5 separate regions of the Homo sapiens genome follow, and all the other regions are linked to region 2. Evidence: fine-mapped expression QTL. A gene starts in region 2. Each other region holds a variant in brackets. All regions are shown on one strand. Distances are from middle to middle.

Region 1 (5,101 bases), 50 kb before region 2:
GTTTTGCTCTTGTTGCCCAGGCTGGAGTGCAATGGGGCTATCTTGGCTCACTGCAACCTCCGCCTCCCAGGTTCAAGCAATTCCCTGCCTCAGCCTCCCTAGTAGCCGGGATTACAGGCATATGCCACCACGCCCGGCTAGTTTTGTATTTTTAGTGGAGACGTGGTTTCTCCATGTTGGTCAGGCTGGTCTCGAACTCCTGACCTCAGGTGATCCACCCTCCTCGGCCTCCCAAAGTGCTGGGATTATAGGCGTGAGCCACTGCGCCTGGCCCACCAGGCTCCAGCATTTCTAAGACAACCTACTCTAAGCCGTGATTCTCAGATGTCAGCAAATATCAGAATGGCTTAAAATGCGGTTCCAAGGCCCCACCTGGAGCACTTCTAAGAATCTGCATTTTCAATAAGGTGGGTCTGAGGTTGGCTACTTTTAGGGAGGCCAACTGTTCCTGTTTGTCTGGGACCTTGCAGGTTTTAGCACAGCAAATTCTGTATCCAGGAACAGCCTTAGTCCCAGCAAACTGATGCTGTTGGCCACCCTACCACATTTTACCCCCAACTCACCATCTTAGGCTGGCTGTGCCAGAGGAGCAGTTGAGTTCTCCGGCTGGCTTGGGGGGTGTGGGGCTGGGAGAGCCCTGGACAGGCCTGTGCATGGAAGCCTCAGCGGCGAGGGTCCAAGGCCCTGAGCCCAGGACTGGACCAGAAGCACTGCCTAGAAAGCCCAGAAGCCAGCATGTGACAGCTCAGCCATGCTGGCAGCTCGAGGTGGCCTGGAGAGGAAGGACTTTGTCCAGGTGAGGCTCCAGGTACTTCCCCTGTTCTCTAGGAAATGGGAAGCTAGATCCTCCCGTACCTGATGCAGGTTCTCCTCCCAGCAGCTGCCCCTCTCATTCTCCTAACACACAGCTTTCATGACAGGCATGAGCACTGGACTGGAAGTCAGCAGCCCTACCTTCTAGTCACTTATCTTCTGGGCCTCAGTTTCCCCATCAGTGAAATGAGGGCATGACTTTTGCTCATCCTGAGTGCTTTACCCACACTGGTTCCTTTCATCTTCTCCTCATCCCCACCAGATAGATGTCGATGCTGCGGCTGAGGGAGGCAGTCACTCGCTCAAAGTCACACACCTAATGAGTGGTGGGACTGGGATTTGAACCCAGTTGTCTGGCCCCAGGGACCACAGGCTCAAGTACCTTGCCACGGCTCCATCATGTTGCCCCTCCTGATCAAGAACCAGCGCTGGCTCCCCATTACATAGGGATGAAATGAAAACAAGCTCATTATAGCCTGAGTCTAAACTAGACCTCTTAAGGTTCCACGGTGAAAACACCTTCCCCTCACTTGTGTCTCCTCTTGGTGCCTTCCCTGGGGAACCTGCCCCAGCCACCCAGCCCACTGTCTCATCCTGCCTCCAGACCCGTTTCCTGCACCCTCATTTACTTTAATAACTCCTTCCCTGTCCTGGGCCAATGGTGTTGCAAGCCTTTCCTGTCTATTATCACACTTGAGTTTCATGATTGCCCATGAGGTTGGCCAAGTAGGTGTCATTATCCCACTTTAAGGTGAGGTTAATGGGCCCAGAGAGACTAAGTGATTTAGTCAAGCTCAGCTGGCCGATGTGTGACCCAGCCTGGTCTAAAACCTAATTCTTGACTCTGGTCCCAGCACCACCTGAGCCCTCGGCTTGCAGCCCCTCCCTTCCCCAACCTCAGATGTAGCTTGTTCACCTGTGCTAAGCCCTTGTTCAGACCGTGGTCCTGGGGACCCTCCTGGGCAGGGGTGCTTCAGTCTTCACTGGGGATCCCCCAGCATCTCACACAGAGCCTGGCACATGGAGAGGCAGGGGCGCTGGGCTGAAACACCCTACACCCAGGGGCTGGAGCCTGGGGACTGAGTGGGGTTTTCATACCAGAAGGACCATCAAGGGCGCTCAGCCCTTGCCCATGGACACTGGAGGCCCAAGGAACAGCTTTGGGGTTGAGGGAGTTCCATAAAAAGTGTACAGGCTTCAGCCAGGCGCGGTGGCTCGCGCCTGTAATCCCAGCTGGGAGGCTGAGGCAGGCGGATCACTTGAGGTCAGGAGTTCAAGACCAGTCTGGCCAATATGGTGAAACCCTGTTTCTACTGAAAATACAAAAATTAGCCGGACACGGTGGTGGGCTGTGTTGTCCCAGCTGCTTGGGAGGCTGAGGCATGAGAATTGCTTGAACCCGGGAGGTGGAGGTTGCAGTGAGCCAAGATTGCACCACTGCACTCCAGCCTGGGCGACAGAGCAAGACTCTGTCT[CAA/C]AAAAAAAAAAAAAAAAAAAAAAAAAAGGCTTCCTTGGGAGATGGAAGGCGAGTGCCTCAGGAGCGTGGCTGAGGGTGTTCCCGAGGGTATGAGAGGCTGCTCTTCCTACCTGGGTTTGTCTTCCTGTGTCTCTTTCCGACTCCCTGTCTCTGACTCTCCATCTCGCTGGGTCTCTCCAAGTCTCTCTGTCCCTATCTCTCTGTCTCTGTGTCTTCATGCCTCTCTCCCTGGTTCTGCCATTTCCCCTGTGGGGGGCTGCCCAGGGCCAAACAGGCCAGAGGGCTCCACCAGCCCTGGAAATTACAGGCTTTGGGAGTAGGGTTGCCAGATAAAATAAAAGATGCCTAGTTAAAATTGAATTTCAGGTAAATAATTAATAATTTTTTTAGTATAAGTGTATCCCAAATACTTCACGGGAGTACCAAACAATGATTGACTGTTCACTTGAAATTCAAGTCCAACTGAGCTTTCTGTATTTTTATTTGCTAAGTCTGGCAGCCCTGCTTAGGAGGAGAAACAGGTGTGTCTGTCCCTCCCAACTGGTGAGGACACCTGACAGGGGCCCAGACACCAGAGTGGGACCTGCCTGATGGAGAGAAGCTTGGGCTTGGTTTATTTCCCTTTTCATAAAAAAGCTGCTTTGAGATGTAAGAGAATCATGTTGGTGGAAGAGTGAAGAGGTTGTTTTGGGGGAGGTCTGCCTTACTCTGAGGGAAGATGGGAAGCGGGGGGAGTGGCCAGCTGTGGAAATTTGGGGTAGTCCCCTACGTATCCTGTGCCTCAGTTTCCCCATGTGTAAACAGGAGTAATTATCTCATCCTGGGGCTGCAGTGAGGATCAGATGAGCTAATGTACAAAAAGGCTTAGGCAGGCCTGCCGTGATAAGAGTGCAGAGGCTGGGGGCTTTTTATGTTATGGTATTGTTGTTATTATTACTCCTGGGGAGGTGGTGGGCAAGAGTGTGGACTGAGGAGCCACATGGCTGGGTTTGGATCCCAGCCCGGCCACAGACCTTGGGCAAGTTACTTAACCTCGGCTTTCTCATCTGTATAATGGGAGACAATAATAGATAGTGCCTCCCTTCTAGGGTTATTGAGAGGATTGCATGATGGGCTGGCACACAGCATGAGCTCAGTAAGTGTCAGTCACTGTTATCCCCCAGGGGCATGCATGCCGCTGCCTCCAGGAGGCCCTCCAACTCGCAGTGGCCTCTCCCTACATGGGTTCCCACTGAGCTGTGATCCTGTGGCCTTGAGCCCCATCTGGCTGCCCTGGACAATGTTGGTCCTCAGCTCCCCAGCGGGATCAACAGTGGGGAGAGCAGTGGGTGGATCTGCCCGCCAGGCAGTACCTGAGTGCACAGTGGGCACCCCACAGTCAAAGGATGCATAGTCTGGTTTCCAAGGAGGAACCCCAGGCTAGGTGGAATGAGGGAAATGCAATCTCAGGGCCAGATAACATCACAGATACTTTAAACCTGCAATTAATTTCTGGTTGTTTGACCAAATCCGGCCAAGTTTCCCGGGTGACACTGCAGAGCTGTGGAACAGCATGGGCTTGGAGTCAGACCTGTTGCACATCTGGCTCTGCCATGTGATGCAACCTCAGGCTTGTCACGAGGCCTCCTTGAGCCTCAGTTGCTAATATGCCAAATGGGGATGATATTGCTCACCTTACAGCTTGTAAGAGTGGAGGGAGCTGCGTGCGCCAGGTGCCTGGCATGCAGCGGGCACTCAACCAGATTGAATTCCCTTCCCAGGGAAGAATTCAAGGATATCTTCCCACCCACTAAGGAGACATGTGATGGGATCTGGGGTGAGAATTGCTCTTTTTAAAGCTCTCAGAACTGTAAGGGGCTCCACCCACCAATGGCTGGTGTTCACTGAGCTCTTCGTGCCCAGACCTGCACTGGGGATTTATCGAGCACATGGCTGGCTTCTGACTTCCGAAGAGCTCGCCATTCTGGTGAGTGGTAAAGAAACTCACAAGGGAAATGTTAATGAACACAGGGGCTTAGAACATCAGACTGTGTGTATGTTTTTTTGTTTTGTTTTGAAACAGGGTCTTGCTCTGTCGCCCAGGCTGGAGTGCAGTGGTGCAATCTTGGCTCACTGCAACCTCTGCCTCCTGGGTTCAAGCGATTCTCCTGCCTCAGCCTCCCCAGTAGCTGGGATTACAGGCATATGCTACCACGCCTGGCTATTTTCTTGTATTTTTAGTAGAGACAGGGTTTCACCATGTTGGCCAGGCTCGACCTCAAGTGATCCGCCCGCCTCGGCTTCCCAAAGTGCCTGACCTCAAGTGATCCATCCGCCTCGGCTTCCCAAAGTGCTGGGATTAAAGGAGTGAGTCACCACGCCCGGCCGACTGTGTATATGTTTGTGTGGGGTCCAGGCTTGACTCGCAGGAGCTTACTGTGAGGATCTGAGGGGACTGGGTGGCCAAGGAAAGCTTCCTGGAGGAAGCAGGGCTTGAGCCAAAGCTCAAACATCTGAGCAAAATATATCTCCTTCGGCACCGACCATGGCTCTCTGCCCTGCCCAGGTCAGTGCCTGAGGGCACAGAAATGTTTGAGGTCTATGGGACGCCTGGCGTGGACATCTACATCTCTCCCAACATGGAGAGGGGCCGGGAGCGTGCAGACACCAGGCGGTGGCGCTTTGACGCGACTTTGGAGATCATCGTGGTCATGAACTCCCCCAGCAATGACCTCAACGACAGCCATGTGAGCTGGTCCCTGGTGGGGTGGGGAGAGGTTTCGAGGGAGGCAGCTGTCTAGCTCTAGGAGGGCCCAACATTCTCTTTCTCCA
Region 2 (5,101 bases):
GAGCCCGTGGCCCTTGTTCCACTGTGAGTGACCAAGTGTGTTTCTACAAAGAGGCTTTGCTTCCAAAGTGCAGCCGTTTTCCCTCAGTGTGAGTGAGTGTGTGTGTGTGTGTGTGTGTGTTACAAACCTAGTTTTGCATTGCTCCCTGTGTAATTGCAAATAGCATGCATTCTCTTTTGCATCTCCTCTCCCTCATCACTCCCCTGGGTCTCTGGTGGAGGACCCCAGGGCTCATCCCTCGGCCTTCTCTCTTCCCTATCCTCACTCATTCCCTAGGGGAGCTGGAGATGTTGACATCTCACTGTTTTATCCTTTTCAGCCTGGTCCTGTCTCTTAAGCTCCGGAATCATGTGTTCAAACGTCCTACAGGGCATCATCACACCAAATGACACTTGGCAAAGCCAGGACCAAACTCCTGATCTCCACCATGCCCACCCCCCGCCCTTCCCTCAGCCTTCCCTGCCCAGCTGCGGGCAGCCCCATCCCTCCAGGGCCTCAGGCTCCAAACTGCGGTGTCCTCCTCCATCCCTCTGTCTTTCTTAACACCCCTCATCCAGTCCCTCTGCAACTCCTATTGGCTGTATTGCATCACAAAATGTCCAGAACCTGACCCATCCTCCCCTCCTCCACTGCCACCACGCTAGCCTGAGCCCCACCGTCTGTCACCAGCCTGTGTGCAGCGGCCACCTCACAGGTCTTCTGGCCTCCTCCCGGGTCCCCTACAGTCTGTTCTCACATCACAGCCAGAGTGATCACGTTCAAGCAAGTTGGTTCGCGGTCCTTCTCTGCTCAAAATGACTCCAGGCTCCCCACGTTACTTGGAGCAGAGGCCAAAGCTCTTAGGATGCCCGAAAGGCCCTATATGATCGCACCCCGCCCTGGGCTGCTCTCCCCCTCCCTCACTGCATTTCAGCCACACTGGCCTCTTTGCTCTTTCTTGAACCCGCCAGGCATGTCCCTGCCTCAGGGCCTTTGTACCGATTGCACTGGCTGTTCTCTTGACTTGGAACCTTCTCCCTGTGTTCCTGGTAGCCTTTACCCTGTCCTTTTTCCTTTTTCTACCCCACTAACATACGATAGAATCCACTTACTGCATTTATTGCTTACTGGCTGTCTCTCTCCCAACAAAAACAAACAAACAAAAAGGCTCTATGAAGGCAGGATTTTTGTCCACTTTGTTCACAGCGTATCCACGGTGCCTGGAACAGTGCCTGGCCATCAATAGGCACTCAGTCAGTATTTGTTGAATTAACAAAACTGCTTTGGGGCTCGTCCTCTTTGTGGCTCGTTCACAGCAAATTTAAACCCCAAACTGCTGAAGAAAATAAGAAAGAAAAGAAGGAACAGAAGAAAACAACCTCAAGAGACCTAAGACTTGGGGTAGAGGCCAGCCCTCCCTCTGATTTGCTGTGTGACCGTGGGCAGGTCCCACTCCCTTTCTGTGCTTCAGTCTCCCCTTCTGCAAAACGAGGACTGGATTGGGTGTTCTCTAAGGGCCCTCCCAACTCTAACAATGGACAGCTCCCTCCTGCCACTTCCCAGTAGAAGCTCAAACTAGTTCTAATCATGCGGTCAGCCAGAGAAATTGGGTTTATTAACACTGTGTGCAGGCAGTCATGTAGATGCGTCAGAACGTCGGACCTGGCCACATCATCATCTGCTGGTACAGAAGATAAATTTTGAGCCCAGAGAAGGTGGTCTGAATCCAGATCCCCACTGTAGGGCTTATGAGACCTTGGGGGTCTCACTCAATCTCTCTAAGTCTTTGTGGTCTCATCTACACATGGGCATCCTGATAGGACGCACTCCATAGGGATGTTGAGATGAGGCAGGATTTGAACTAAAGCCTGTTTGATCCCACAGCCTGACTCTGAATTAATGAGGCAAATTCTTTGCTTCAAAGCCAAAGCAAGCAAACAAAAAACAAACGCAAGATATCCAACCCACGAAACGCTCTATGTTCACGCCAGACTCCCATGCATGCACCCTTTGAGTGCTCCTTGTTGGGACCCATCCACCACCCCCCAGTTGCCTCATTAAAGGCAGAGCCTGGCACCAATGGCCCAGGTGCAACCACAGCTCTGAGGCCACATGGGCATCCCCCTGGCAGGCGTGGCCCACACCTGCACTGTCTGGTCTGACACCCAGAGGCCCTGGCAAGAGGCAGGTATCCTGGAGCATGCAGAGAACATCAACTTCCATGCCAGGAAGCTCATCTTCTCTTCCCAGCTCTGCCGCATTCTAGCTCTGGCACCTTGGGCAAGAGCTAGTCACTTTTACTCTCTGAGCCTCAATTTTCCTTCTGTAAAATGGGTTGTAATAATAAGCCCATATACACCTTGTATTGTAGCGAGATGTAGCTGTGATACAGTCTGGAAAGCACGTGTCATATAGACAGGCAGCTAATGAATCTCACACTCTGGAACTGGACACCTTTGGTTCCAATTCTGGCCCTACCACTCTCGAGCTGTGGAAGAACTGCACCTCTGTTTTCTCCTCTGTAAAATGGGTATAATAATGGCACCAACCTCAGAGGGCTGCTGTGAGGGTGAAATAAGGGGATAATGGTATGATCTAGTTCACGGGTTTGTCGTAATGAGCTATTCTATGTGAAGTGCAGGAAAACGTGCCTGGCATAGAGAATGTGAGCTGTCATGTGGGTGGCCCAGGTGGAGAGACTTGTCCCAAGCCTGGTTGGTCTTTGAACGTGTAGCCTGGCCTGTGACTGCTTACCTAAAATCTCCCCGCTTTTCCCACCTTCTCCTCTCTGATATGCCTGTTTGACATAGGTGAGATTGGATAGATCAAGGTGTTCAGGGCCTCTAGGCAGGGATGGGACTGTGGGCATGAGGACCAGGACCCAACCCCTCAGCCCCACTCTCCACCCCAGGCTTTCTGAGCCATCCATCCTTCCCAAGAAACTGACAGAGCCACCCTGCCACTGGTACCAGCATTGACACCCATCTAGAGGTCCGAGGGGCAGCCCCAGGGCAGAGGAGATTTTGAGAGCCCACACCCCTGACCTGAGTGGGGAGGGGTTGAGCCTCTGGGCCACAGACCGCAGGTGCTGACTCATGGCCTCTGCTGGGCGATATAAAGGAACCAGCCCAGGGGCTTCCTACAGCCAGAGGGACGAGCTAGCCCGACGATGGCCCAGGGGACATTGATCCGTGTGACCCCAGAGCAGCCCACCCATGCCGTGTGTGTGCTGGGCACCTTGACTCAGCTTGACATCTGCAGGTAAGAGGGGGGCCTTCTGGGGTTTTGGAGGCAGGTCAGGAGATGCTGGATGACCCAGTTCTACTGACACAGGAGCATGTGTTTGGCCCAGGCTCTAGGCTCCAGCCTCTGCAGCCACTGCCAGGGGAGTAGCTGGAGAGAGAAGACCCCAGCAGCCCTGGGAAGTGCCAGTCTCATGGCTGTGGGTTCTTTGCCATGTACAAGTGCAAATTCCCCAGGAACACACGACAGATAAATTATTATGGGGCAAACCAGGCCATCCATCTCCCTGTCTTCATCGAGGCAACAGAAGCTTACAGAGAGTCTGTGACTTGCTCAAGGTCACACAGCACGTGTGCCCTGGAAGTAAGGTTAGCCCCTGGGCCTCCTGGTTCACAGCACAGTTTGTTACCCCACATCTCTTAGCTAAGCCTCCCTCAGTGGGTGCATAATAGCGTGGGTGGGGATGGCGAAACGGGGCTCTGTGGCGGCAGAGACTGAGGTAGGAAGCCTGGACCTGCTGCTGGCTAGCAAGGAGGCCTTGGGCAACTGAGCCTCAGTTGCCTCATCTGTGAAATGGGGATAATACTCACATCATGGGCTGGTTATAGGAATTCAATGTGAAAAAATGTGCAGATGTTGGCTGAGTACTTAGCACAGTGGTGGGCCCATCCTTGGTAGTTTTTATTTACTCATTTAACAAATGCTGAGTGCCATGCTCTGTGGCAGGGTCTGGGTTAAACAAGAGAGTTGAGGAATGCTCTCGGGGAGTGTGCAGGGTCATTGTTGTTATTGTAGAACAGGAATTAAAAGAAATTTTAAAACGTGTAAGCAAAAACTCAGTTCTATGTTAAAAAAAAAAAAAACAATTTTCCCTGGAAAAAAAAAAAAAAAAGAGCTGGAGTCCCTTAAAAATTAACTGCCTGTTTTTTTGTGGCTAGTGAGCCTTATTGCTCCTCTTTTTCCAGGCATTGTAAAGACCCTGTTTCTCCAGCTGTGCAGCTGCAAGGTCACTAGACAGATAAACTCAAGCTGTAAAAATTTTTTTCCTTAAAAAGTAAAAAATAATATAATGCATGTCTCAATTAAATAACTGTCTTTGTTTCTTGCCTCTATAATATGCTTCCCCCTGCACAGATCTACCCCCGCCCCATGAAATGCTTAAAAGATAACTTAACTCTTTGTTCAGGGCTCAGTCTTTTGAAATGTTAGCCTGACTGAGCCAGTGAATCTAAATAATAAATCCTCCTCAACCCCTCGGTCTCTCTGATTCCTAAATTATCCTGCAACAATTGCTGTTGTCAGGAATAGGAGTGGTTGCCCCTGGCTTCCCCATCCCAGTCTGGGCATCGGTGGCCCTAGAATGGTGCCCACAGGAGTGCCGGGGACATTTCTTTGCTACTGCCTGAGCCCCAGCAGCCAGAGAACAGCAGGAAATGTCGGGATGGTCTCCCAGGGCCACATGGTGGAGGCAGGAGACCAAGAAGTTGGGGAGAAAAGGAAAAAGAAAATCACCTGACATCATCTGAGGCGCCCCCAACTCCTCTGAGAATGGGTGTGAAGGAAATGACAGGAGCTGAAGCTAGCCCAGGGCCTCTCCCAGCATGCCCAGGCTAGCCCTCTACCCAGCGTCCATGAGTAGTAATCAAGATCACAAGTGCTTCCTCTGGCCCTAGAGAGGTGGGTGGACAGCTGGTCAGTGTTGGGCAGAGAGGAAGGCACTGCCCATTTCTCCCAGAAAGGATGGGGACTCCGGAGTTCACAGGGGCCTCTAAATCCTTCTTTTCTCCTCCTTCAGCCACACGTTGAGCCTGTCACTCTATCCCCTGAACATCTCACGTAACAATGGCTAATATTTACATCACACTTCCTACATTCAACT
Region 3 (5,101 bases), 26 kb before region 2:
CTGGAAGCGTTCTCAAATTCACTCCCTTTCCAGCCCCACTGAGACTGCATGAATCCCAGAGGATCCTCCCTTTCTCAGTGACCCCAGAGGTCCCAGGGCAAAGACCCTTTGACACGCAGGATCATAGATTTTCTTGGTCCCATGGCCTCAGGGAAGGCAGATAGCATCCTAGACCAAACACAGCTCAGAGAGAAAAAAAGCTCCTGTAGAACTTAGACGCCCCCAAGTATAATAATTTCCAAAGTCCCCTTGCTCTCTGTTTGCTAGCGTTAACTTCTTCCAACACAACCCTGGAGCCTTAGCAATAAAATGGAAGAGAAATAGTCTTTCTTGACCCTGTTGCTCCCAAACGCACCCTAACTAGACTCCGGTGAACCTAGAGTAAGTCTTAGAAATCCTTAAATCCAAATTATGTACCAGGCAGGGAGAAATGCCACCTTCATCTTTCCTGGGAGAACTTATGGTGAGCAAGACCCAGGAATGGGTTGAGCAGAGTTATTCCAACCTGCCCAGCTGGGAGGGAGCGTGGGAGAATTCACAGATGGCAGGCCACAAGCAGCCACCCCACCCTCGAGGGCTGACACTCAGGCAGTGACTGTGGCGATTAATTACATAGACACAGAGGCCAGACACAGAGGCCAGAGCACTGATTAGACACCTCAGTGCGCCAGGCCTCACGCTGTGTGCATCACACGTGTTATCTCATTTGATCTCACGAGAGATCAAATGGGATGACTCTCACCCACCTTTATTCCCAAGAATGTGAGGCTCAGAGAGGGGATGTCACTGGCCCAGAGGCCTCAGCAAGATTGCAGTGGAGCTGGGACTGGACCCCAGCTTCCTGCCTTAAACTGGGGTGAAGCGGGCGTTAGACCTGCAGATGGGTCAGGGGAGCCCTCTCCTTTCCCTTGGTCAAGGCTTGAGGCCCTGTGCGAGCCCTGGGCTTGGGTTTGAATCACAAGCCCCCACATATCCTACCTGTGTGACCTTTGGCAAGTCTTCTGACCTCTCTGAGCCTCAGTTTTCTCATCTGTAAAGTGGGGATCATAATGCATACCTTGTGGGGGTCACCGTGAGGGTTAAATGAGATGCTGAACCTGGGCACTCCCCTCGGGGCCTGCTCATGGTAAGCGCTTACTAAGTAGCAGCCATGAGGATTGTGTGCCATTGACTCTAGCCTCCGCTTCCCTGTCCAGTCTCATCTGCATGGGCACACCATCAGGCTGAGAAAATCTGGACCCCTGGGAGGTCCCCATTTCACGCAGTCACCCCCTGAAGGGCAGGATTGGGGCTGGATGGTGTCTGAATCCCAGGACTGGCTGGTTCGCTGCTCAGTGAACCTATAAAACCTGACTGATGGTGGGTGGGTGGGCAGCAACTGACCCAGCTCCCCGCTAAGCCAAAGCAAGAGGATTCCTCATCCAGTGCCCTCGGGCAGTTGTACATTTCCAGTGACAGGCGTTACCACTTCCAGTGAACTCAAATAAAGGTCTCAGTTCATTCCACTGTGGCAACCAGACCCTCCCACTCCTTATACCCCAAGATGTGCACAGTGGCCAAGGCAAGCTCAGACAGGTGGAACCCACCCAAGGCCTGGGAAAGTCAGAGGCTGCTGACTCGGCAAGACCATTAGCTGTGAACTTGGCTCCTGCCTGTCTGCTTCCCTAAGCAGGTGGTCCTCACGTTGGTGCTGTCCCTGTCCTTCTCTTTCATCTCTCTCCTTCACAGATGATGAGCAGGTCAAGACCATCTCCATCAACCAGGTGCTCTCCAATAAAGACCTCATCAACTACAATAAGTTTGTGCAGGTACAAGGGCTGTGGTGTACCTGTGGGCTGTGATTTGGGAGTAGGCGGGGCTGGAGGCAAGGATGGGATACAGACATCTGAGGCTAACTGTTCATGAAAGCTCAGGTTAGAACAGGCCCAGACAGAGGGGTCCCAACACCCTC[T/C]TTTGACCCAGAAGAAGTGAGGGGAGCGACAGGATGCCTTGGTGCCCCCAAAACACACTGGCAAGGTGTCCCCAACTCTGGCCCTCCCCTGCCCCCAGAGCTGCATCGACTGGAACCGTGAGGTGCTGAAGCGGGAGCTGGGCCTGGCAGAGTGTGACATCATTGACATCCCACAGCTCTTCAAGACCGAGAGGAAAAAAGCAACGGCCTTCTTCCCTGACTTGGTGAGGGCACTACCCATGACTCCTTTGCCAAATCAGGCTGCAAACCTCTAAGCTCGAGAGAGGAAAAATGTCTGGTCACAGTCATATTTAGGATTGTGGTGGCCAGTGGGGGTGGCAGGGAGAATCAGGGGTCCTATGGTGCTCCTCAGAAGGGCTTCTAGCTGGCTGACCACCATGGTCCCTGTGGAATGCTTGCTGGCCAAGCCCTGGCCCAAGGGGCATCAGGGAAGGGGTCCACTTGACATTTGTGGAGTGAATGAATGATTGCATGAGGTCACGTGTGCAAAGCACATGGCATCAGCTGGGAACCCAGATGCTCATTCTGCTCTCTTCCTCCCAGCTTGTGGCTCTTCATCCATCCCACATGTATTTAGGGTGTCCTGTGGCAGATGCAGAGATGATTAAGAATGCCCCCTGCTCTCAAGGGACTTTCAGTCTAATCGGTTGAGAGGGAAACTCTTCCCTTCTCTGAGGACATGTCCCAGTGATCTATTTTGTAGGATAAGGCGATGTGGCAGTTTGGAGGTGAGACAAAGCACTTCCAGCCTAAGAGGTAGAACTGGAGATCCAGGAAGTCTTCATGGAAGAAGTGGCTTTTGACTGAGCCTTGAGGGCTTTGCCTCTGATGCTTGTAAATCTTTTTTTCTTTTTTTCTTTTTTTTTTTTTGAGACGGAGTCTCACTCTGTTGCCCAGGCTGGAGGGCAGTGGCACAATCTCACTCACTGCAACCTCAGCCTCCAGGGTTCAAGCGATTCTCCTGCCTCAGCCTCCTGAGTAGCTGGGATTGTGGGATTGCAGGCGTGCACCACCACGCCCGGCTAATTTCTGTATTTTTAGTAGAGATGGAGTTTTGCCATGTTGGCCAGGCTGGTCTTGAGCTCCTGACCTCCGGTGATCCACCAGCCTCGGCCTCCCAAAGTGCTGGGATTACAGGCGGAAGCCACCGTGCTTGGCCTGCTTCTAAATCTTGAGCTTGCCTTTGAAACACCTGGACAGGTGGGGCCCCACCCCAGCGGTCCTGATTCAGCAGGTCTAAAGCACGGCCCGAGGCACTGCTGCCGCGCTAACAAACACCCAGGTGGTGCTGATGCTGCCTTTTAGAGGAACACAGTTTGAGTAGCACTGCTATAGGTCACCCAGCTCCCCTCTCCACTCCTCCCCACCTCATCCCCTAAAAGAACTCAATTTGCCCATTGTCAGAGCCTTGTGGGGAACCTGTCCACACCACCATTGCTTCATGCCCCGCTTTTTCCTTCCTCTTTTCAGGCAACATTTTGCCCTCCGCTTGCAAAGCCTCTTTTCACTCCCCTTCCTTCCTGTTCGAGGCTATCTTGTAATTATATATGTGCCCCAAGAAGTTTGTGCAATGATTCAGGTTCTTGTGTTCGCAAGAGACAGAGTCCTACTGAAGCCAGCTTCAGCCAGAGGGAGTCTTAATATAAGGACACCAGAAACCTGAGGGCAGGATAGCTGCAGCAGAGCCTGGAACCCTCTCTGTTTCTGTGTCTACATCATTCATTCTCTCTCTTTCTCTCACCCTCTCCACCTCCTACTTCTTCTCCCTCTTCTTCCAGCTTGGCTTCCTTTGCTTCTCTGTTCCTGGGGACAAAGATGAGTATGGCCATGCACAGAGACACTGACACGGGCAGAGACCAACTAGACGCTCCCATTGTCAGTTTCAAATTCCTGGGAGAGGGACTCTGATTGGTCCATCTTGGACCAGCTGTTCTCCCTGGCCCAATCAGTTATGGCCTAGAAGGTTGGGATTCTGCAGCACAAACATGGCAGCTGCCACAATCCACAATTCCAAATTCACATTAGGGCAGTTTCCAGAGCACGTTGCCAGAGTGAGTTCTGCGGATGCTCCCAAAGGCACCTGGCTAACCGGTTCTTCCCAGCCCCTTTAGCCAGTTACCTTCTCATTGCACAGGAAAGGGTGAGTAGCTATTGACAAGGCTGTCTAAAACACAAACCTAGGTCCTGCAGGTAGAGTAGAGGTGTGGGGTGGGAGCCCAGTGATGAAGTGCTGCTTCCCCTTTGGACTGCAGGTGAACATGCTGGTGCTGGGGAAGCACCTGGGCATCCCCAAGCCCTTTGGGCCCATCATCAATGGCTGCTGCTGCCTGGAGGAGAAGGTGCGGTCCCTGCTGGAGCCGCTGGGCCTCCACTGCACCTTCATTGATGACTTCACTCCATACCACATGCTGCATGGGGAGGTGCACTGTGGCACCAATGTGTGCAGAAAGCCCTTCTCTTTCAAGTGGTGGAACATGGTGCCCTGAGACAGCTCCCACCCACCATCCTGTCCCCCTGGGGCGGGCATTGGCCCAGGTGGTGGAGACAGAGACAGGCCCCTGAACGATAAGCACCAAGAGACCCCAAGGCTCCAGATGGAACACTGAGGGTGACCGTCCCTCTCAGAAGCCTTTTCCCTGGAAGTGTCCATGCCTCACCTGCAACCCATGTGGTTCTCAGACTTGAATCTTCTCGGCCCCCCAAAAAGAAGGACCTCATTTCTTATAGCCTCTCCTGTGATTCAACACAACCCATGGAGATGTCCCCTTCTCACTCTGAAATCATCCATTTGGGGACAAATCCACATTGGGGTCTAGAAACATCCACGTATCTCATCAGCCATCTTGTCCTGTGCATCCTAACAGAGGAAGGATCCATGATTCTGCTTTGGTCCAATTGCTTCCTCTCTGCAGAGGAACAACCCTAAAACCAGACCACTCCACGCAGGACAGGCAGGAGAGATTCTTCCTAAAGCCTCCCCCATAAAAAGGGAGCTGTGGATCCACTTAGATCAGGGCGGAACCATCTTTCACCCGGCCAAGCTCCTGCCCAGATGTTGACCCTCACCCAGCGTGAGCTGTCACATAGTAGGAGCTTCTAGATGCATGTGGAAGCAATGAGAGTTGTCCC
Region 4 (5,101 bases), 34 kb after region 2:
CCAAGAGCTGGTATAAGCACTGTGTATCACCTGACTTTATCTTCACAACCATTCTACGGTGGGTACAACTCTTGCCCCTGTCTTAGTGATGAGGAAACAGAGGCAGAGAAAGCTGAAATCCGTTTCCTAAGCCCACCCAGATCCCAGATTCAAACCAAATTGACCGCAAAGCCTTTAAGCCCTTGGCTATCAGTCAGTCCCTTGGGAACCATCTCTTCACTCTCCCCACCCTCTACCCCTTCTTGGCTATTGTTCAAGTTGGTTCACAAACCCCACTTCTTGCTCAGGACCAGCACAGAAACCTTTCACTCGTTCATTGCACAAATCTCAGCCGAGCGCCTGCCGCCTGCTGGTCATTGTTCTAGGGAGTTCTCGGCTTTCTAGGTTCAAGATTCAGGGAACGTTGCAAGGAGCAAAATATTAATAAATGTGGTCCCCGCTTTGCTGAGGTTACATCCCCAGCTCATCCTAGTGGGAGGAGACCAAAACCTTAATGAGCTCTCATTCCAAAATGAAAACCATCATTTAAATACTCAAAATAGCATAAAGAAAAGAAAACCAGGCAACATGGTAAAGGGAGGTCTCAGGGGAGCGGTGGGGTGTGAGGCTCCACCAGGAGGTGAGGTGGCTATGGGAAACCAGCAGCGGTCTCAGGGCCCTGTGACTCAGGCAATGCCCTTCTCATCCCAGACCTGCAGGACATGTCGCTGATGACCCTGAGCACGAAGACCCCCAAGGACTTCTTCACAAACCATACACTGGTGCTCCACGTGGCCAGGTCTGAGATGGACAAAGTGAGGGTGTTTCAGGCCACACGTAAGTCATCCCCATCTTTGTTCCCCTCCTGCCCTGGCCAACGGGGCACAATCCTGTCACACAGCTGTGTGGCAGATAAATCCTGAGCACCTACTATGTGCCAAGTTCTAAGAACAGCAGACGCAGCAGTGGGCAAGACAGACGACATCTCGTCTACTACCTTCCAGTTGGAGGACACAGACAAAATGACTCGTTATTGCTCCCTGCTTTTCTTTCTCTCTCTCTCACACACGCGCGCGCACACACACACACACACACACACACACCTCCTGGTTATAGACTTTGAGTGCAAGCTGACAGCATGTGGCATGTAATCATTTGTTCTGCAACATCCTGCTAATCAGAGACATCAGGAACTTCTCAGTGACCCACGAGCACCTGCAACTAAGTAGGTGCCAGGTTGATCCCAGGCACGGGGCACAGAGCCATGACTGTGACCGAGTCCCTGCCCTCGTGTTGCTTTCATCTTAGTGGCTGGGAGAACTATAGGTAAAATAATTACATAAAACACCTAGTGTGTCCAACGCTGTGACATGCTATGTAGAAGAATGCGGCAGGGAAGGGGATGTGGAGTGAGGAGTGGAGTTCGGGTTGTGTGGAGAGAGGGTGGCCAGGGAAGGTGTCCCCCATGAGGTGCCATGTGAGCAGAGGGAGGTATAGGAACAGCCAGACAGACACCTAGGGGAAGGGCGTTCCAGGCAGAGGGAACGGCAAGTGCGTGGGCCCTGAGGTGAGATCATGCCTGTGGTTTGGAGGAATGCAGGGAGGCTAGTGCAGCTGGGGCGGAATGTGCAAGGGTTAAAGTGGGGGATGAGGGTGGAAGAGACAGGGCAGAGGGGAAGGGGGAGGTCAGGTAGGCGTATATTGACTTTGGCTTCTGGATGGAAGGAGATGGAGAGCGCCATGGGAGGGTTTTTTTTTTGCATGGGCCTGACAATCATTCTGATCCTGATCATTCTGCCTGGTCTATTCCAAGCTTTTTTTTTTTTTTTTTAATTTTTTTTTTTGAGAGAGTCTCACTCTGTTGCCCCGGCTGGAGTGCAGTGGTGCCATCTTGGCTCACTGCAGCCTCCACCTCCTGGGTTCCAGAGATTCTCCTGTCTCAGCCTCCCCAGTAGCTGAGGTTACAAGCATGTGCCACCACATCCAGCTAATTTTTGTATTTTTAGTAGAGATGGGATTTCACCAGGTTGGCCAGACAGGTCTCGAACTCCTGACCTCAAATGATCCACTTGCCTCAGCCTCCCCAAGCACTAGGATTACAGACACCATGCCCAGCCTCTGTTTCTTTTTTTTTTTTTTTTGAGATGGAGTCTCTCTCTGTCGCCAGGCTGGAGTGCAGTGGCGCAATCTCAACTCACTGCAACCTCCACCTCCTGGGTTCAAGCAATTCTCCTGCCTCAGCCTCCCGAGTAGCTGTGATTATAGGCATCCACCACAATGCCTGGCTAATTTTTTTGTGTTTTTAGTAGAGATGGGCTTTCACCATGTTGGCCAGGCTGGTCTGGATCTCCTGACCTTGTGATCCTCCTGCCTCGGCCTCCCAAAGTGCTGGGATTACAGGCGTAAGCCACCACACCCGGCCTGTTTCATTCTTAAAGTGATTAAACTGACACTGATTTGGTGACAGGTCAACTTATTGCCTCCACCCAGGCATCACCTCCTCCAGGAAGTTCTCAGGGATTCCCTCTATCACAGCTGTCTGCTATTTTCATGATCTCTGCTTCTCCCTACTCACCCGTAAGACTGTGCACTCTCTGGGGGTGAGGATAGGAGGACAGTGACTCTGTCTCCCTGGTCCCCTGCTGTGCCCCTGTCCCCCGCTGACATCTGGCTAGAGCAGATGCTCAGGAATGAGTGAAGGAATGGTGTATACTGGACTTCCTATAAAGTTTGGAATAGCTCAGGCACCCCTGCCACACCCTTCTGGGACTTCAGCCGGGGAGCAGCGTCCCAGCTAGAACTTCAGTCCTTTTCTCCTAAGGGGACTGGCCAGATTTGGCTGCAAGGGGTTCTCTGATGGTGCCATGTGGTGACCCTGGGAAAGGCTTCTGGGGAGCACTAAGGAGAGGAGGAAAAGTCTTCAGAAGTGGGGACGCAGACCTGAGTCTCCCCTGCCTCTCTCCTAGGGGGCAAACTGTCCTCCAAGTGCAGCGTAGTCTTGGGTCCCAAGTGGCCCTCTCACTACCTGATGGTCCCC[G/A]GTGGAAAGCACAACATGGACTTCTACGTGGAGGCCCTCGCTTTCCCGGACACCGACTTCCCGGGGCTCATTACCCTCACCATCTCCCTGCTGGACACGTCCAACCTGGTAGGCCGAGAAGGCAGCCCTGCATCGGGGGCCTGGGCTTCCAGGCAGTGGCCTGGCTAGGGAAAGGGGTACAGAGCCCAGCTGGGCAGGGGGACTCCAAACAGCTGCAGGAAGTGGTAGGTGCTGGGCCCTGGCAGCGGTGACAGCCCCTCCTTCCCCTTACCCCCTCCCCTGCAGGAGCTCCCCGAGGCTGTGGTGTTCCAAGACAGCGTGGTCTTCCGCGTGGCGCCCTGGATCATGACCCCCAACACCCAGCCCCCGCAGGAGGTGTACGCGTGCAGGTGAGAGGTCCTGGGGTGCTGGGGTGGGTCCAGACAACAAAGAGCCTGAGTTCCATCCGCAGCACTCACTGTGTGATGGGAAAAACAGTCACCCCTCCCCTGCCCACTGAGAGCTTGCTGCTTGTTGGGGGCTCTAAAAAGGCAGGGAAGTTCCCTACTGTTGTTGTCATTGCCTCTGTCCTGCCCTGATGCAGCTGAGGCTACGTTAACTCCCAGGGGCCTGTAGAGTGTGTCCCATGGACCTTGTGCACCAGAAACTCCTGGGAACTCATTTAAAATGCACCTTTCTGGGCTGGGCACGGTGGCTCACGCCTGTAATCCTAGCACTTTGGGAGGCTGAGGCAGGTGGATCACTTAAGGTCAGAAGTTTGAGATCAGCCCAGCCAACATGGTGAAACCCTGTCTCTACTAAAAAATACAAAAATTGGCCGGGCGTGGTGGCGCATGCCTGTAATCCAGCTACTCAGGAGGCCGAGGCACGAGAATTGCTTGAACCCTGGAGGCGGAGGTTGCAGTGAGCTGAGATTGCGCCACTGCGCTCCAGCCTGGGCAACACAGTGAGACTCCATCTCAAAAATAAAATAACCAGCCTGGCCAACATGGTGAAACCCCGTCTCTACTAAAAATACAAAAAATTAGCCAGGTGTTGTGGCATGTGCCTGTAATCCCAGCTACTCGGGAGGCTGAGGCAGGAGAATCACTTGAACCCAGGAGGCCAAGGTTGCAGTGAGCCGAGATTGCACCATTGCACTCTAGCCTGGGCGACAGAGCAAGACTCCGTCTTGAGAAAATTAAAAATAATAAAAATTAAAAATTAAATTAAATTAAATTAAATTTAAATTAAATAAAATGCACCTTTCTGGCTGCCTGTGAGCTGCTGGGTCTTATCCCTGAGGACGGGGCCCATCTGCATTTTGGGGAGGCCCAGGCAATCTTCCTGCAGTCTGAGAGCCGCTGACAAGTGTGCTGGGGTCTCAGGAGACCCTCTCCTCCCCTCTTCTGATAGCTTCAGGGGCAGAAGAGTAAGAGGGTAATGTGGTCAGGACGCAGGCTGGAATCCAGTGAGGACTGTATTCCGGTCCCAGCACTGTTCCAGGTGGTGTGACCTTGAACAGTGAACTCATATTCTGTCTTCTCCCAAGTTGATATGGTTTGGCTCTGTGTCTCCACCCAAATCTTATCTTGAATTGTACTCCCACAATTCCCACGTGTTCTGGGAGGGACCTGGTGGGAGATAATTTGAATCATGGAGGTGGTTTGCCCCATACCATTCTCATGGTAGTGAATAAGTCTCATGAGATCTGATGGTTTTATCAGGGGTTTCCACTTTTGCATCTTGCTCATTTTCTCTTGCCGCCGCCATGTAAGAAGTGCCTTTTGCCTCCCACCATGGTGTCCCCAGCCATGTGGGAGTGTAAGTCCAATTAAACCTCTTTTCCTTCCTAGTCTCAGGTATGTTTTTATCAGCAGCGTGAAAATGGACTAATACAGTAAATTGATACCAGTAGAGGGGGGCGTTGCTGAAAAGATACCCAAAATGTGGAAGCAACTTTGGAACTGGGTAACAGACAGAGGTTGGAACGGTTTGGAGGGCTCAGAGGAAGACAGGAAAATGTGGGAAAGTTTGGAACTTTCTAGAGACTTGTTGAATGGCTTTGACAAAAATACTGATAATGATATGAACAATGAAATCCAG
Region 5 (5,101 bases), 40 kb after region 2:
CCTGCAAAGCCACAGGGGCAGAGCTGCCTAAGACCATGGGAACCCACCTCTTGTGTCAGCATGACCTGGATGTGAGACCTGGAGTCAAAGATCATTTTGGAGCTTTAAAATTTGACTGCCCTGCTGGATTTTGGACTTGCATGGGCCCTGTAACCCCCTTGTTTTGGCCAATTTCTCCCATTTGGAATGGTTGTATTTACCCAACACCTGTACCCCCATTGTATCTAGGAAGTAACTAGCTTGCTTTTGATTTTACAGGCTCATAGGAGGAAGGGACTTGCCCTGTCTCAGATGAGATTTTGGATTGTGAACTTTTGGGTTAATGCTGAAATGAGTTAAGACTTTGGGGGACTGTTGGGAAGGCATGATTGGTTTTGAAATGTGAGGATATAGGATTTGGAGGGGCCAGGGGCAGGATGATATGCTTTGGTTCTGTGTCCCCACCCAAATCTCATCTTGACATGTACTCCCATAATTCCCAAGTGTTGTGGGAGGGACCCAGTGGGAGATAATTTGAATCATGGTGGCAGTTTCTCCCATACTGTTCTCATGATAGTGAATAAGTCTCATGAGATCTGATGGTTTTATCAGGTTTTTCTCCTTTTTCTTCTTCCTCATTTTCTCTTGCCACCGCCATGTAAGAAGTGCCTTTTGCCTCCCACCATGGCCTCCCCAGCCATGTGGAACTGTAAGTCCAATTAAACCTCTTTTTCTTCCCAGTCTCAAGTATGTCTTTATCAGCAGCGTGAAAACGGACTAATACACGGGTGGAAGGGGTACCCACTAGTTCCTGCCTCATAACTTGTTAGATGGATTCCATGAGCTAATGCCTGCTAAGAGCAGATGGACCGGACGTGCCAGGAGCCTCTGTTCAGGCCACAGGTGACCCCTGAGCCACCTGTGTGTCCCTCCCAATCCTTCCAGGCTGAGCTTCAAATTCCAGAGCACTAAGGAGCTGCTTTTCTGCTCTCTCTAGTATTTTTGAAAATGAGGACTTCCTGAAGTCAGTGACTACTCTGGCCATGAAAGCCAAGTGCAAGCTGACCATCTGCCCTGAGGAGGAGAACATGGATGACCAGTGGATGCAGGTATGTGCCCTGCGGGGCAGGCAGGGTGACTGTCCCTGAGGGCCAAGAGACACTTGGGGGACCCGGGCTCCTGGGGTTCAGCCTGGTGCCTCACCGGCCACTCTTCCTTAGATGGACAGGGAGATAGGAACCTGAGAGATCCTTGGGCCGGGAGGCTCAAGCAAGTGATTCATCTGACGTTTGCTGTGGGCCACTGCAGGCCCACTGCAGTCACCAAGATGAAGCCACCTTCCTGCTTGAAAACACTCAGGTGGCCTCAGGAAATGATGTGAAGCTCAGGAGATTGGTGCTCAACCAGCCCCTCAAGTGGTCCTCCCTCCAGGCTGTCCATCTTGGGCCCAGCCACCAAAGCAGGTCACACCCCAGCTCCAGCACTTTCCATGGCTCCCATCTCCTCCTGCTTAGTCTGTTTCCAGGCCCTCTCAGCCTGCCTGGTTCCCTTCCCTGGGGCCAGCCTGCCACTGTGCCTGGAAACACATGATTACCAGTCTCTGTTTCCGTGCCACTCCCCCATCATGCCAGGAGTGCCCCAAGGACTGAGACTGGGCCTCATCCAGCCTAGCACCCTGACCCTCCCCACCACTGCCTTGCTTTGCCTCGGGACCCTGTCCTTCCATGCCGCACCCCTGCGGTGCTGTCTCTTGGACCCATCTCCCCATTCCCATCCCCCATCTCCAATCCATACCGGTGAATCCCAGCACAAATGCTCCTCGTCCATAAATTTCCCCCATCACCCCCAGCAGGAATTCATCCCTCTTTCTTTTCACCCCCACACAACATCCTTTCTTCCTTTCTTGCCATTCCATCTTTTCTTTTCTTTTTTTTTTCACTCTTGTTGCCCAGGCTGGAGTGCAATGGCTCGATCTCGGCTCATCACAACCTCTGCCTCCCGGGTTCAAATGATTCTCCTGCCTCAGCCTCCTGAGTAGCTGTAATTACAGGCATGTGCCACCACGCCTGGCTAATTTTGTATTTTTAGTAGAGATGGGGTTTCTCCGTGTTGGTCAGGCTGGTCTCGAACTCCTGACCTCAGGTGATCCACCCACCTCAGCCTCCCAAAGTGCTGGGCTTACAGGCATGAGTTACTGCACCTGGCCGCCATTCCATTTTTTTGATACCAAGTTGACCTGTGTGAAATTGCTGATATGTGCCATTTTTGATTTGCAAGAGTGGAACTTTCATCTGGTTCATCCTAATAGTAACTTATAGTAGTGATTATGTCCAACATCACACCTGCCTGCTAGAATACAAGCCTGCGGAGGCGGAATTTTCAGCAGATTCATTTCTGAAACCTCCCCGTGCTCCTCCTGCTGCTCCAGTGGCCCAGGCTGGGTCTTATCTGCCCTCCTTTGGGGAGGAGGCCGCGAGCTCTGGCGCCAACAGGTCTTCTCTGGCCCATCCTAGCTGCATCAGGAGCCCCTCCTCTGTGTCCCCACAGACCCCTCAACCCCTCACCCCCCATCACCTCCTAACCCTGGTGCCCACTGCCTGGCTCCCTTGTTTTCTCACCTTGAGGAGGGGTCTCAGTTTTGCTCACCAGGGGTCCCCAGCACTGGCCCAGGCACCACCAGGAGTAGGAGGGAAGGGCACTCCTGCAGGCTCATGGCCTCTCGTGCACTGGGCAAACAGGGGGCAATAAGCTCCGCTTCTGAGCCCCTTCTCTGAGATCAAACATCCCATAGGAATGTGCCCTTGACTGCAAGGGTGAGAGTGAGTGGATGGTTTCATGCCCCCATCCTGGCGTCGGGCACCAAGACCCAGGCAGCACGCGCAACAGCCTCCTCTCCACTCACTCCCACAGGATGAAATGGAGATCGGCTACATCCAAGCCCCACACAAAACGCTGCCCGTGGTCTTCGACTCTCCAAGGAACAGAGGCCTGAAGGAGTTTCCCATCAAACG[C/A]GTGATGGTACCTGCATGGGGTGGGGAGGGGGCACAGCTGCCGAAACCCTCTTGTCTTGAGACTCCCTCCTTTTAGCCTGCCTTCCCCGCCCGCGCCTGTAGCTGAGTAGCCCAGTGCAAGGAGGTGGAATTCCTACCAAAGTGGGAGCATGTAGGTGGGGCTTGTTATTTTTTTATTACCAAGATAAGATCTGGCTCTTCATTTCCCAAAACCCTTGTCACCCGTGAGCTCAGCTTGATCTCCAGGTAACCCTGCCGAGGAGGTGGCTCAGGCTTGGACCTCCCTGTGCTCTTGAAGAAGCTCTTGCTGCAAGGTGGAGGTGGGGCCGGGGCTGGAATCTTTCCCAATGCCCAGCTGGAGGCTCTGTCTTATGGGTGGTGTTTGGTCTTCAGGGGCTCCATCTGGGATATGGGGGATTTTGGGATCAGTGGATCAGTGGTCATTTCCTGGGTGTGACTTTATCAGCCACAGGCTGTCCATGTGGAGGTGGGAAGTGACGTATTGCTGACTCATGCTTGACTAGCCTGGCAGGTTGATGCAAACTCAGCACAGAACAATAATAATAATAGTTGCATTTATTGAGAATGAGTTGTGTGTTAGCCAGTGCTGCATTCTTTACCTGCACTGACTCATTTAATTTGATAAACTGTTATGGAGATTCTATCAATAGGCCCATTTTATAGAAGAAGAAACTGAGGCTCAGAGTGGAGAAGTTGGAATTCAAACCCGGCCAGTCCGGCTTGGTGAGCATGCTTTTCCCCGCCCTGCCTCCCTCTCCCTGCTTTCCCAGGAAGACCCCAGGCCTGCGCTCTGAGTCCTGGCAGCCCCTTGGCTCAAGGTGCCCAGGGAAAACGACGGAAGGAGTGTGGGGTCCAAGGTTTGCTAGGACAAATGGCTTTCCGACAAGCATCTGTACTGTGCCCCAAGGGAGGGGAGAGTGGCCCTGCCCACACAGAAGGCTTCAGAATGAAACTTCAGTTAAACTCAACAACTTGTCCCGAGTCTCGCTTCCTCCTGGCCAAGCTGTGCGCTGAGCAGTGGAGATGCAGAGATGCTGTTGGATTCACAGTGTGTACTCAGCCATGGGGTCGAGTTCATCCTGTTTCAGCAGCGTTGGGGCGAACCAGCCAGCTGCTACCGTGACTTTGCCCTCTTTCTGCTGCTTTCAGTCCTGCCTGGTTCAGTGGCTGTGTCTACTTTGATGCTCCAAGTATAACAAAGGCCAGATTTTCTGATGCCACAAGTCCTGCTGGACAGACAGACGGACACCTCGGCACCATTGTTGTCCCCTTTCCCACAGACAACTTTGGATGAAGGCAGGCAGCACTGGTCCCTCAGCTAAGCACATCTGTGTATTCCAACTCAAATCACTCAGAATGAGGCCAGGTGTGGTGGCTGACACCTGTAATCCCAGCAGTTTGGGAGGCCAAGGAGGATGGATCACCTGAGGTCAGAAGTTCGAGACCAGCCTGGCCAGCATGGCGAAATCCCGTCTCTACTAAAAATACAAAAATTAGCTGGGCATGGTGGTGTGTGCCTGTAATCCTATCTTCTCAAGAGTTTGAGGCAGGAGAATCCCTTGAACCCAGGAGGCAGAGGTTGCAGTGAGCCGAGATTGCACCACTGCACTCCAGCCTGGGTGACAGAGCAAGACTGTATCAAAAAAAAAAAAAAAGAAAGAAAAAGAAAAAACAACAACAAAAAACACCCAAATCACTCAGAATGAAGAGAATTGGAGAAAAAGTCACACTCAGCACCAGGCTTTGGCCCCACCTGCCTCTCCAGCACCATTGTAGGCCACTCTCGCTGTCCCTTACCCAGCCCCACCTCCACTGGCCTCCTTCCTGTTCTTCAAACTTGCCTAACGTTTCCCCACCTCACGGTCTTTGCATATGCCGTTCCCTCTGCTTGCAGTGCTGTTCCCTGTTCACGGGGCTGGCTGCTTCTCAGCCTTCAGGTTTCAGCTTCTATTTCCTACTCAGTGAGGCCTTCCCTGATGCTAAAAGAGGGATCCCTACTCCCACCCCAACTCCTAGCCTTCTCCACTACAGCCCCCTGTTGACTTCTTCAGTGTATTTTGTTAAAATCATGGACTCGTTCATCTACTTTT

The links. PIP is the estimated chance that this variant, and not a neighbour inherited with it, causes the effect. A credible set is the group of variants that fine-mapping cannot tell apart.
Region 1: its variant is the best candidate, but not a certain one, in a credible set for the expression of PADI4 in monocytes (CEDAR, PIP 0.73).
Region 3: its variant is the best candidate, but not a certain one, in a credible set for the expression of PADI4 in blood mononuclear cells (TOPMed, PIP 0.81).
Region 4: its variant is the best candidate, but not a certain one, in a credible set for the expression of PADI4 in whole blood (INTERVAL, PIP 0.59).
Region 5: its variant is the best candidate, but not a certain one, in a credible set for the expression of PADI4 in monocytes (TOPMed, PIP 0.79).

What each region holds. Positions count from the first base shown.
Region 1 is chr1:17,254,743-17,259,843 of GRCh38, forward strand. PADI3 (peptidyl arginine deiminase 3) reads left to right here. Exons shown (of 16, transcript NM_016233.2): 2 at 4,836-5,016. Among named protein-coding and RNA genes, the nearest start is that of PADI3, 8.2 kb to the left of the region's middle. RefSeq lists enhancers at 4,292-4,793, 4,794-5,101. The variant CAA/C (reference allele first, on the strand shown) is at 2,289.
Region 2 is chr1:17,305,075-17,310,175 of GRCh38, forward strand. It overlaps PADI4 (peptidyl arginine deiminase 4), which reads left to right and starts at 3,123. Exons shown (of 16, transcript NM_012387.3): 1 at 3,123-3,240. The coding sequence starts at 3,149. RefSeq lists an enhancer at 1-305.
Region 3 is chr1:17,278,622-17,283,722 of GRCh38, forward strand. PADI3 (peptidyl arginine deiminase 3) reads left to right here. Exons shown (of 16, transcript NM_016233.2): 14 at 1,729-1,808; 15 at 2,050-2,175; 16 at 4,225-5,101. The coding sequence ends at 4,458. Among named protein-coding and RNA genes, the nearest start is that of MIR3972, 3.3 kb to the left of the region's middle. The variant T/C (reference allele first, on the strand shown) is at 1,952.
Region 4 is chr1:17,338,998-17,344,098 of GRCh38, forward strand. PADI4 (peptidyl arginine deiminase 4) reads left to right here. Exons shown (of 16, transcript NM_012387.3): 6 at 691-816; 7 at 2,946-3,124; 8 at 3,302-3,405. Among named protein-coding and RNA genes, the nearest start is that of PADI6, 31 kb to the right of the region's middle. The variant G/A (reference allele first, on the strand shown) is at 3,017.
Region 5 is chr1:17,345,052-17,350,152 of GRCh38, forward strand. PADI4 (peptidyl arginine deiminase 4) reads left to right here. Exons shown (of 16, transcript NM_012387.3): 9 at 977-1,088; 10 at 2,890-2,997. Among named protein-coding and RNA genes, the nearest start is that of PADI6, 25 kb to the right of the region's middle. The variant C/A (reference allele first, on the strand shown) is at 2,991.